Regions from separate parts of the Homo sapiens genome. Here region 2 is linked to region 1. The links come from fine-mapping of genetic effects on gene expression. A gene starts in region 1. The other region holds a variant in brackets. All regions are shown on one strand. Distances are between the middles of the regions.

What was found. PIP is the estimated chance that this variant, and not a neighbour inherited with it, causes the effect.
Region 2: its variant is the best candidate, but not a certain one, in a credible set for the expression of EI24 in whole blood (INTERVAL, PIP 0.64).

The regions. Positions count from the first base shown.
Region 1 is chr11:125,567,161-125,572,538 of GRCh38, reverse strand. It overlaps EI24 (EI24 autophagy associated transmembrane protein), which reads right to left and starts at 3,062. Exons shown (of 11, transcript NM_004879.5): 1 at 2,966-3,062; 2 at 1-81. The coding sequence starts at 11. STT3A-AS1 (STT3A antisense RNA 1) reads left to right here. Exons shown (of 4, transcript NR_132372.1): 3 at 2,097-2,249; 4 at 4,421-4,431. RefSeq lists enhancers at 2,345-2,394, 2,897-3,398 and a silencer at 2,835-3,394.
Region 2 is chr11:125,389,982-125,395,359 of GRCh38, reverse strand. The region is part of intron 6 of PKNOX2 (PBX/knotted 1 homeobox 2); the gene reads right to left. Among named protein-coding and RNA genes, the nearest start is that of FEZ1, 100 kb to the left of the region's middle. The variant G/A (reference allele first, on the strand shown) is at 3,063.

The DNA of each region.
Region 1 (5,378 bases):
CTGTCAGCCATCTCTTCACCACCAAACTATCAACTACACACAGGAGAGAGAAGTGTCCCCAAATCTCTCATCATGAAGGATCTGGAAACAGATGGAACATAATGGAGGCAAATATTTATTTTAAAGATAAGTTACTTCATGCACATTTCCACATGATGACCTCACATACTTGTAGCTCTAGTAAGATAGCAGTAGATTCTAGCACTAATAGAGTGAATCAAGTGAAGCTATTCCTGTACAGCTGAAACCTAAAATCCCTATTTTTTTTCTAAAACACTCACCACCCTTTCATTTTTACAAGGGGTTTTACATTTTACACCCTCTCATTTTTACATTTTACATTTTTACAATGTGCTCTTGACCAGTAACCTCCTCTGAGCCTCAATGCCCCTAACTATCCCTCCTACACATTCTAAGCACTTTTGAGGGTTTGGAGATGGAAGATAATTACATTTCAATATCTTCTTAAGCAATTTTTATGTTTGCTGGATACCTTCAAATACTTGAATGAAAATACAAGAGCAAGATAAAAGTTCTTACAAAAATTACTAAATACATGCTTCAGTCATACAGAGCCCTCGGGCACAGTAAAGTTTAAGGTATGACATGAAATTGCGTACCAAAACCTCCAAATAGGTCTTTTTTATTTTATTTTATTTTTTGAGACAGAGTCTCGCTCTTGTTGCCCAGGCTGGAGTGCAACACTGGGCTCGGCTCACTGCAACCTCCACCTCCCAGGTTCAAGTGATTCTCTTGCCTCAGCCTCCCGAGTAGCTGAGATTACAGGAACCCGCCACCACGCCCAGCTAATTTTGTGTATTTTTAGTAGAGATGGGGTTTCGCCATGTTGGCCAGGCTGATCTCAAACTCCTGATCTCAGGTGATCCATCCATCTCAGCCTCCCAAAGTGCTAGGATTACAGGCATGAGCCACCACGCCCGGCTGGTCTTTTCTGTTTTCTAACTTTAAATATATACAGATACAATTTTAATAAACATGCAATAAATAGTGGATTTTAAACTAGGCCTCAAAAAAGTTCATATGTATAAACAGTCTTTAAAACAGTAAGGCTTTCCCATTTTATTTCTCAGGTGAATGGGATATCTAGTTTCAAAAATTAAGAACTTGAGAGTTCATGTGAGAAATACTTGTAATTAATATACTATTCTCTCATTTAATCTGTGGTGACTTCTAAGATGAATAGAAAACCCACTTTCAGGCATTTTTTAAGAACCTGATATTCTAAAGTTCTCAACACTCACTCAATCAAGTTGCAGTATTCTCAGTTTAAGAGGTATGACCATAATACAAAGACAGAATTTCACAAGCAGCTTGTACAAACCTTAAATTTCAAAATATAAGCACACTTTCCCCGACCTTTAACCACTTCACCAAACTGCTCCTCATTGACCCAACTGGACTAATGCCATTCAGAACTGGAAGAGCAGGGGATATGGCAGTAGGAAGGCAATTTGCCCAACATTGTATATACCCTCTGCTCCTTAGGTCAAATCCTACACAGATAGGCTCACTTCGGATAGAAGTCTCTAGGGTAAGAAACTTCTGTTAATACTCCCACTGTTTCCTCCTGAAAACAAACACCTCAGAGTTCCAGTCGCGTAGGTACAGCCATACAGACATGTTCTCAGGGTTGAGGTGAGGGCAGCTGAGCTAGATAACTAGCAAAGGCTCAGTGATATGCACGACACTAGTTTGTAAAGACTCACAGATCCACTCCCGTAACCTGCCACTGGCTCATCTATAAATTAAGGGTACTAAACTTCTTCATAGGTTTCTTGCATCTAATAGGGCACAACAGCATGAAAAAAACTTAAAATTCTATATAAACACAACCCCACCAAAGTGAGCCAGCTTGGAGGTTTAAGGAAGCCCATTACTTGGCCTGGATTTCTCACAGGGAACTGACAGGGAACCTGAAACATTCTGTCTCAGTCCACAACAGCTGTGTCATTTGATCCCTGGCCAGCTAACACCTGGTTTCTGCATGTACCAAGTGGCAGGACACCTCCTAAGAGTGACCTATGAAGGATAAATCACTTCACTTTTATACTTAGATCCTAACATCCTTCCTACAGGAATATTTGGTGAATTACCCAGTCTGACAAATAGCTGAGGCATGGGGAAAAATAACCTGCCACAATTTGAGAACACACACACAGACTGAATGACACAGGGGGAATCCTACAGCTGAGCTAGACAGATGAAGATGCATCTGGCTCATTTAACAGGTGAGAGAACCCAGTCTCAGAAGTTAAATGACTTGCCCAGACTGACAGCAAATGAATGGCAGCTACAGTGAACCTCAGAACCCGGTGTTCTAACGTTACCTCGGTCGAGACTTGTTTTTACTTAAGCTTTGCAATGAAGATTTTTGTTTTAACACGAGCATCCCATGGACAAATAACCTCTCAAACCTGGAAATACAAATGCCATTAAATTCCCAACAGTCATTAGAAGCTAATAAGCATCTGCTGAGACACACTTTTATTTCTAAGTCACTAAACCCAAGTCTCGGCAAACAGGAAGCTGTCGTAGCCCACTCCAGGTACAGGGAAGGTAAACATCCTCACTTCCCACGGGGCTCCACGGGCTGCCTCTGAGTCCACGGGTCCATTCAGGCCCATCTCCCCACAGCTCCTAGGCAATTCGGCAGAAAACTGGTCTCCCTAGGCACAACTGTGCACGAGGTACGGATCACGCGAGGTGCGGATCACGCACGCTCCGGGTCACACAGGGAGCTAAAGATAGCTGCGCCGCACCTGGGGCAGCCTCGCCCGGGGATGTGCCCGGCCCCGTCCCGCTCCCTCCGGCCCCTTCCCATAAGGGGTCCTCGCCGGTAGCCCCACCAACCCACGCTCGGGCCCTGCCTGCCCTCCCGGTCCCTGCCACTCAGAATGGGCGGCGCGGCGGCCCCGAGGCCTAGCTCGGCTGAGCCCGCACCTACCCACAGCTCCGCCGCCGCGGCTCCGGCCCTGCCCCTAGCCCACCGCAGGCCAGCTCCGCCGGGGCGCTTCCAGGGCCGGGGCCGCTGCGCCCGCACTGGGCATGCCCGGGCCGCACGGGGCCGCTGGGAAGTCGGGCGAGCGCGAAGAACCAGCCGGCACCACGAGGCGGGGCCCAGAGCCGAAGGGGTGGGCCGCGCGGAGCGACGGAGACTGGGAAATGTAGTCAGTCCGGGGTCCCGCCTCGCGCTGCGTGCGGGATCGTCCGGCTCCCAACTCCGCCTGGCGGCGGAGAGGACCCCTCACCCCTCCGCGTCGCCTCCTCCCCGTCGCCTCCTCGCCGATCCCGTTCTCACAGATCTCTCCTCCTGTTCTTTGCCCTCCCCCATTGACTCCACAACGCTGCTTGCGTTTCTAAAATCCTGTGAAATTAGTAACAGGATGCCTTTAATCCCAGCATTTTGGGAGGCCAAGGCAGGCAGATCACGAGGTCAGGAGTTCAAGACCAGCCTGGCCAACATAGCGAAACCCCATCTCTACTAAAATAACAAAAATTAGCCAGGTGTGGTGGTACCTGCCTGTGGTCCCAGCTACTCAGGAGGCTGAGGCAGGAGAATTACTTGAACTCAGGGGATGAAGGTTGCAGTGAGCCGAGATCACACCACTGCACTCCTGCCTGGGCGACTGAGCAAGACTCAGTCTCAAAATAATAATAATAATAATAAATTTAAAAAATGAAATAAAATAAGTGGCTGGGCACGGTGGCTCATGCGTGTAACCTCAGCACTTTGGGAAGCTGAGGCGGGCAGATCACTTGAGGCCACCCTGGCCAAGATGGTGAAATCCCGTCTCTACTAAAAATACAAAAAATTAGCTGGGCATGGTGGCACACACCTGTGGTCCCAGCTACTTGGTCGGCTAAGGAATGAGAATCACTTCAATTCAGGAGGCAGAGGTTGCGGTGAGCCGAGATCGCACTACTGCACTTCAGCCTGGGTGACACAGCTAGACTGTCTCGAAAAATAAAATAAAATAAAACAAAACAAAACAATATAAAATAGAATAGAATAAGGAATCCATCTACTAAAGCTTAGAAATCTTGTTACAAAGAGACCTAAGTGGTTTAATGACAAACTGATTATTGTGCTATTAATTATAATAATAGCTCTTCCTCCAAGCTCTATTCTTTCTCAAGAGTGTCAATTTAGAAAAGATTTTAGAAAGAATTTAGTAGGTATGAGTTTATTCTGGCTTACTTCATGGGAGGAAATCTTTTTTTTTTTTTTTTTTTGAGACTGAGTCTGTCTTTGTCTCCCAGGCTGGAGTGCAGTGGTGCGATCTCGGCTCACTGCAAGCTCCGCCCCCTGGGTTCACGCCATTCTCCTGCCTCAGCCTCCTGAGTAGCTGGGACTACAGGCACCTGCCACCAAGCATGGCTAATTTTTTTGTATTTTTAGTAGAGACGGGGTTTCACCGTGTTAGCCAGGATGGTCTCGATCTCCTGACCTCGTGGTCCGCCCACCTACAGCCTCCCAAAGTGCTGGGATTACAGGCGTGAGCCACTGCGCCTGGCCGGGAGGAAATCTTTTAAATCTCAACATGTATAACCACATTTAAAATAAAAACCAATAATAATTAATACCTTGCATTTTTAAAGAGCTCTCACATGCTTATGTATGATTAGATGCTATTTGTGGACAAGTAGAGGATATTATTTTCCAAATTTCACAAATGAGGAAGTTTGTGGCAGAGCACTTTGAGAAGACATGACCTCCAGTTAAGCTGTGAACCTTAGTTTCTTTTTTTTTTTTTTTTTTTTTTTGAGACAGTGTCTCTCTATCTTGGCTCACTGCAAGCTCCACCTCCCGGGTTCACACCATTCTCCTGTCTCAGCCTCCCAAGTAGCTGGGACTACAGGTGCCCGCCACCACGCCCGGCTAATTTTTTGTATTTTTAGTAGAGACGGGGTTTCACCATGTTAGCCAGGATGGTCTCGATCTTCTGACCTCGTGATCCACCCGCCTTGGCCTCCCAAAGTGCTGGGATTACAGGTGTGAGCCAGCACGCCTGGCCCAAACCTTAGTTTCTTTAACACAGGCTGCTGAAATAAATGGTATATATATGAAGGTGTTTTTTAACTGTATGGATATATGATTTAGTGAAATGATAACAATACTAGATCTAGTGATAGCGACAGGAGACAGCCAAATGCCTAGGCAGTTAGTGGCGGGTCCCCATTGAAACCCCACCTCCAAGCCAAAAACAGTTTAAAGCTCGAAAGCCAAGCTACAAGTTAAGTCCTCAGACCAGATTGAGAACTTGTCTTCCTGTCTTGCATGTTTTCCTCTGATTGATCCCCACCCTTCACCTATTTTACATATACCTACCCTTTCCTGATTGGTTTTCTACACTGTT
Region 2 (5,378 bases), 180 kb after region 1:
TAATAGTCAAAAATCGGAAACAACCCAAATGTACTTCAATGGGTGAATGGATAAAGAAACTGTAATTCATCCATATCATGGAATATAACTCAGCAATAAAAAAGAATGAGCTATTGATATGCCCAACAATGTGGATAGATTGCAAGGGAATTTTCCTGAGAGACAAAAGCCAGTCTCAAAGGATTATATACTATATGATGCCATTTACAAAACGTTTTTGAAATGACAAAATTATAGAGATGGAAGACAGAAAGACAGATTAGTGGTTGACAGCGGTAGAGTGGAGGAGGGAGGGAGGAACTGTTCTGTACTTTGCTATAACAATGTTTATGTGGATCTAAGTATATGATAAAATTGCACAGAACTAATTACATGTACACACACACACACACACACACACGAGGGCACGTAAAACTGGTGAAATCTGAATACAGTTGGTGGATTGTTCCTGGCTGTGAAATTGTGCTATGGTTATACAAGATGTGAATCAGGAGCTCTCTGTATGAGTTCTTATAACTGCATGTGAATCTACATTTATATCAAAATTAAATGTAACCGCTAGGAGCGGGTGATGCTTATTGCTTTTCCAGATCCATTTATGTTGACGCAAGCAATATATGGGATCTCTTTTTAGTCCCACCCTCCTAGCTTTTGGCTAGCTCCTGGATGCCTAGAGGAGAGTTTGGACAATATAAAAAGGGATGGAAACAAGGAAGGAAATCTCTCCCAGAGAATTGTGACTGTGAGGTGTGTGTAGAGAAGTGTGGCTTGAAGCCAGCATTACACCCTTCTCTGAGCCTCATTGGCATTTCAAGTGGGGAGCCCACATTCCCTGGGCTGGGCTTGTGGCTTGTCTGATGAGCAGGGATTGTGCTCAACTAATTAAGGGTTTTTGGAGTACTAAATTAGACCAAGTGTCACTCAAAGACAGAAAGCAGCGATTGTGTGTCGTCATGCAGGGCTCAGTCACAAGGTCTCCTCCTAAGAAGTACCACCTCTGTGGGGCTGAGACTGAGGGAGACTGAGCCATCCTAAGCAAAGAGGAAAATTGTGACTTTAGAATGGATCATTTGGACCCCAAAGTGGAGTTAAGTACTTAATAAAGATTTGTTCTTGCCTAATGTTCTACTTGACTTTGGCCACGAACATCTTGGTCTATGTCTCTCAGTGTAATGAGCACAGGATAAGGTACTTAACACATATGCGTTGCTGGATTGTTAATAATACCCAAACGTTTCTTATTCAGACTGTGTCTCAGGCACTGTGTTAAGCCCATTCCAGGCCTTATTTATTCCACACAACCATCTCATTAAGTAGGTACCATTATTGCTCATATTTTGCATTTGAAGAAAATAAAATCCAAAAATATTACGTTTCCTTGCTTAGAGTCACACAACTGGTGAGCGATATGAAGCCAGGTTGCCCCACCCCCCACCCGTGTGCCTTGTCTTTCAATATGGACTCTCAGGATTATGTAGGTAGAGGAAGTGGTAGTATAAAGGGTGCGTGGTTTGGGAGAAAGTGGCTCAGTGACAGCAAGTACGGGGTTCTAGGAAGCCAAGTAGCTTTTGAGACATCAAAGTTTAGGATTTCCAGAACCCTTCCTGGTAATGTGCCTTTTCTCAGCTGCTCTGATCTCCCATCTCTCACTCCTGGCACAGCCCCCCGGGGTCCAAACACCTCACCAACACAGGTGCCTGCTTCTCCATGTGCACACGGAGAGGGCTGGACTGTCAGGTCCCTTACGTTTTCTGACTCTCTGAACATTACCAGGACTTCTGCCCTCAATTCACGCCTGATGGTGTTAGAATGAACCCCACACGGTGACCTGGACCAGCCTCTAGGTGGCTGCACAGTCCAAACTCATCAGGACACAGGCTGCATCTTCTCCTCCAGCCTCTCCCGGTCACTGGGCGATGACCTTGTTGCCTCGGACCTTCTCCATATTCTCTCAGTCTGCTGATTAGAAGCTTTTCCTTATATTCAATCAAAATCTCTCCCGCCTTAATGTAAAGTGCCTTCTGTAGGCACCAAGAACATCGAGGAACTTCTAGGACCTCTATCAACACAACTTCTTTTTAATTTAATTTTATTCATTCAACAAGTATTGAGTCTTACTATATGCCACATATTGGACCAGGCATCTGACTTGAACAAGTTGTTCAATTAACTTTCTCTTCTCTCTTTTTTTTTTTTTTTTTGAGACGAGTCTTGCTCTGTCGCCCAGGCTGGAGTGCAGTGGCGCGATCTCGACTCACTGCAAGCTCCACCTCCTGGTTCACGCCATTCTCCTGCCTCAGCCTCCCAAGCAGCTGGGACCACGCCCGCCACCACGCCGGGCTAATTTTTTTTTTTATGTATTTTTAGTAGAGACAGGGTTTCACTGTGTTTCCCAGGATAGTCTCGATCTCCTGACCTCATGATCCGCCCACCTTGGCCTCCCAAAGTGCTGGGATTACAGGCGTGAGCCACCGCGCCCGGCCAAACTTTCTCTTTTCTAGACAAAAACGATCGTCATTCCTTAAACCTTTCTTCTCTTTCCCTTCCCCGTTCCTTCTTTCCTCCCTCCTTTCTTTCCTTTTTTCCTTCTTTCTCACACACATACATATATTCACACATACACAGAGAAAAGTGCACTTACCTATTCATTTATTTTAAATATATAACCAATTTATACTTACTTTATAAAATCAGAAAATACAGGTAAGTAAAACAAAAGTAAAATATACTCAGAAGAGCTTTGCTCAAATAAAATACACGCACAGCATGTTTAAACCAGGTCTGGTGCACAGTGACCAAAAGTGGACTTATCCTTTGGTCTAATAAAGTGCAGCTGAAGGATTACTTTTTTATGGGCTAATGGAATTGGTTGAAAGATTTAAGGAGGTAGAGTAAATCATAATGGTATTCTGAGGCAATGAATATGTAGGACCTGTTCAATATTAGAAAGGTAGGCAACACTATCAATGTTAGAGGGCTGCCTGGCAGGGCAGGAACACTGTGGGTTCATTGTCAGGCAGCCTGGATTTGAGTCCGAGCCCGCTCTCTGTTAATTGGGTGCC[G/A]TTGGGCAAATTCCATGATTTCTCTGAGCCTCAGTCTCTTTACGTGTAAAATGGGGATAATGTTCATCTCTAACTCACAAGATTTGAAAGGGGCTAAAGGAGATAATGATGTAAACATGCTTTATAAACCACAGTAAACCAAATGCATGCAAGTTGTAAAAATAATCTCTTCTAATAATGTCTGATATCCCATTGGCTTTTCTACTGCTATTCTACGTCCAGCCAGTGAAAAAATAGTAACTCCAAGGGTCTTTTTTGCTCCCATATTTGTGTTTAGTAAATCATCCTCTATCCTGTGTTTACAATTTTGGATTTTTGTCTCCAAGTTAGAAAATTCTGATTTATTAAACTATTTTTCTAAATGATCGGGGTCATGTGAAAATTTATTCCAAATCTTCTAGGGCAATAACAATGCCACTTAATTCAACATCACCGCCAAATGTGGTGAATGCATCCTTAATTCCTCTCCCCAGGTGTTGCTCCATCTTTCAGCTTCTTTCCCTCCCTTCTCTTTCAAAATAATGATTCAGCCCTCTTTTTCTAAGAAGTCTGCATCAAAAAAGCAAAACAAATGCAACCTCACATTTTAGTCTCCTACCACTGTACACAAGTCTCACAGTCCCAGGAAAGTACACAAAAATGGGGTTTCTTATTTTCTATAAAGCCATGTCGTCTGATGTCCCACACTGATTATTTTCTGCCTTGATATTTTGAACAAGTAGTTTGAACTTTATCTGCAAAATTTAGGATGACAATAATACCTACACTTCAGAGTTGTTGTGAAAACTGAATAAGATCATGTATGCAAATGTGTTGGGCATATAGTAGCCATTCAGGAAATGTCAATTCCTCATACCACTGTGGTATTATGGTCCTCCCTCCACCATCAAATGCCTCTCTCAGTGTGCCTCTCTTGTAGGATCGTGGCCTTTCCACTTGATAATAATAATTTCTTGCCTTTCAAAACGTTTGTATACACAGCACTTTACAATTTACAAAGTGCTTTCTCTCCATTATCTCATTTGAGTCTCGTCACCACAGGGACACAGGCAATATTATCTCTCCTAGAGATAAGGAAATTGAGGCTCAGAGATTACGGAACCCATTCAGCTCCATGCAGGAATTAGGGAGGCATCTTTGTTTTGCAGGCACATTCCTTTCACCCTCTCCTTCCTTTTTGCAAATTGGGAAGCTGGAACTATTCTCCCTCACGGACAGAAGAAGGAATTTATAAACACACATTCCTTAACGTGCTATGATATTTCCTGTGGGTCACTGTGCCTGCCAATGCTCAAATCTAATCAGGAATTTTTCCAGACCAGGCCAGCTTGGCCTGACCATTTGGAAGTGTGGGGTCACTAGAACAAAAAATGGGACATGAAAAAAAGGTGAATACCAGTGATTGGAGAACTGCCTGATGATTCGGGGACAAAACAAATATTTTGTGGAAACCATCACGCAAGACAAGTCAAATCATTTTGGAGTCAATAACCTGGCACTCTCCTTCTGATGGCCTCAGAATTTGGGAAAGAAGTGGTACCGAGGAAGGAGGGTGGGCTTCAGGAGTTAGAGCCACTTGGTTCAAATCCCAGCTATGTAATTTATTGGCTATAGGGTTCTTAGTCCTTGATTTCTTCCTCTGTCAAATGGGGATAATAACAACTACTTCATAGGGGTCTTGTGAGAATTAAACAGCAAAGAAGACACTCGGGGCTTTAGGTCTTGGGTGTCTTGGGTCTTCCACCTACGGTGAGACACTGAAGAATTTACATAATCTCTAAGCTGTAATTTCCTCACCTGGAAAATAAGATAATAATAGTGACTCCTCAGAGTTGCACTGTGGGTTAAATAAGATGTAGCTAGAAGAAAATGAGAAACAAGACCTGGCCCAGAGAAAGATGGAAGAAGATATTAGCTCCAGAGCTGCTTTGGGTGTGGTCACTGGAGCGCGAGTCTTGCACTGTATTTGATTCCTGCCTGGGCCATGGACCAGCTGCATGATGGTGACTGCATCTCTTGCCTCAATTGCCTCCTCTTAAAATGGGGATAATAGTAACATGTGCCTTGTGGGTTTAGAAAGAGGATTAAATAAGATAATATATGTAAAACAGTTGGAACGGTACCCGGCACCTGGTAAGTGCTCTATAAATGTTCATTATTACTAGCGTTGAGGATTCCCATTTCCTTTCCCTTTCCTGGTGTCTGTGGGATTTTCTGCTCCTGTCTAGGCAAAGAGAGCCCGGACTGAAGGCCAAAGTGGCTAAGTCTCTGAATGCCGCTGGCCTGAGGCCTCTGGGCCCAGAGCTCTGGCCTGAT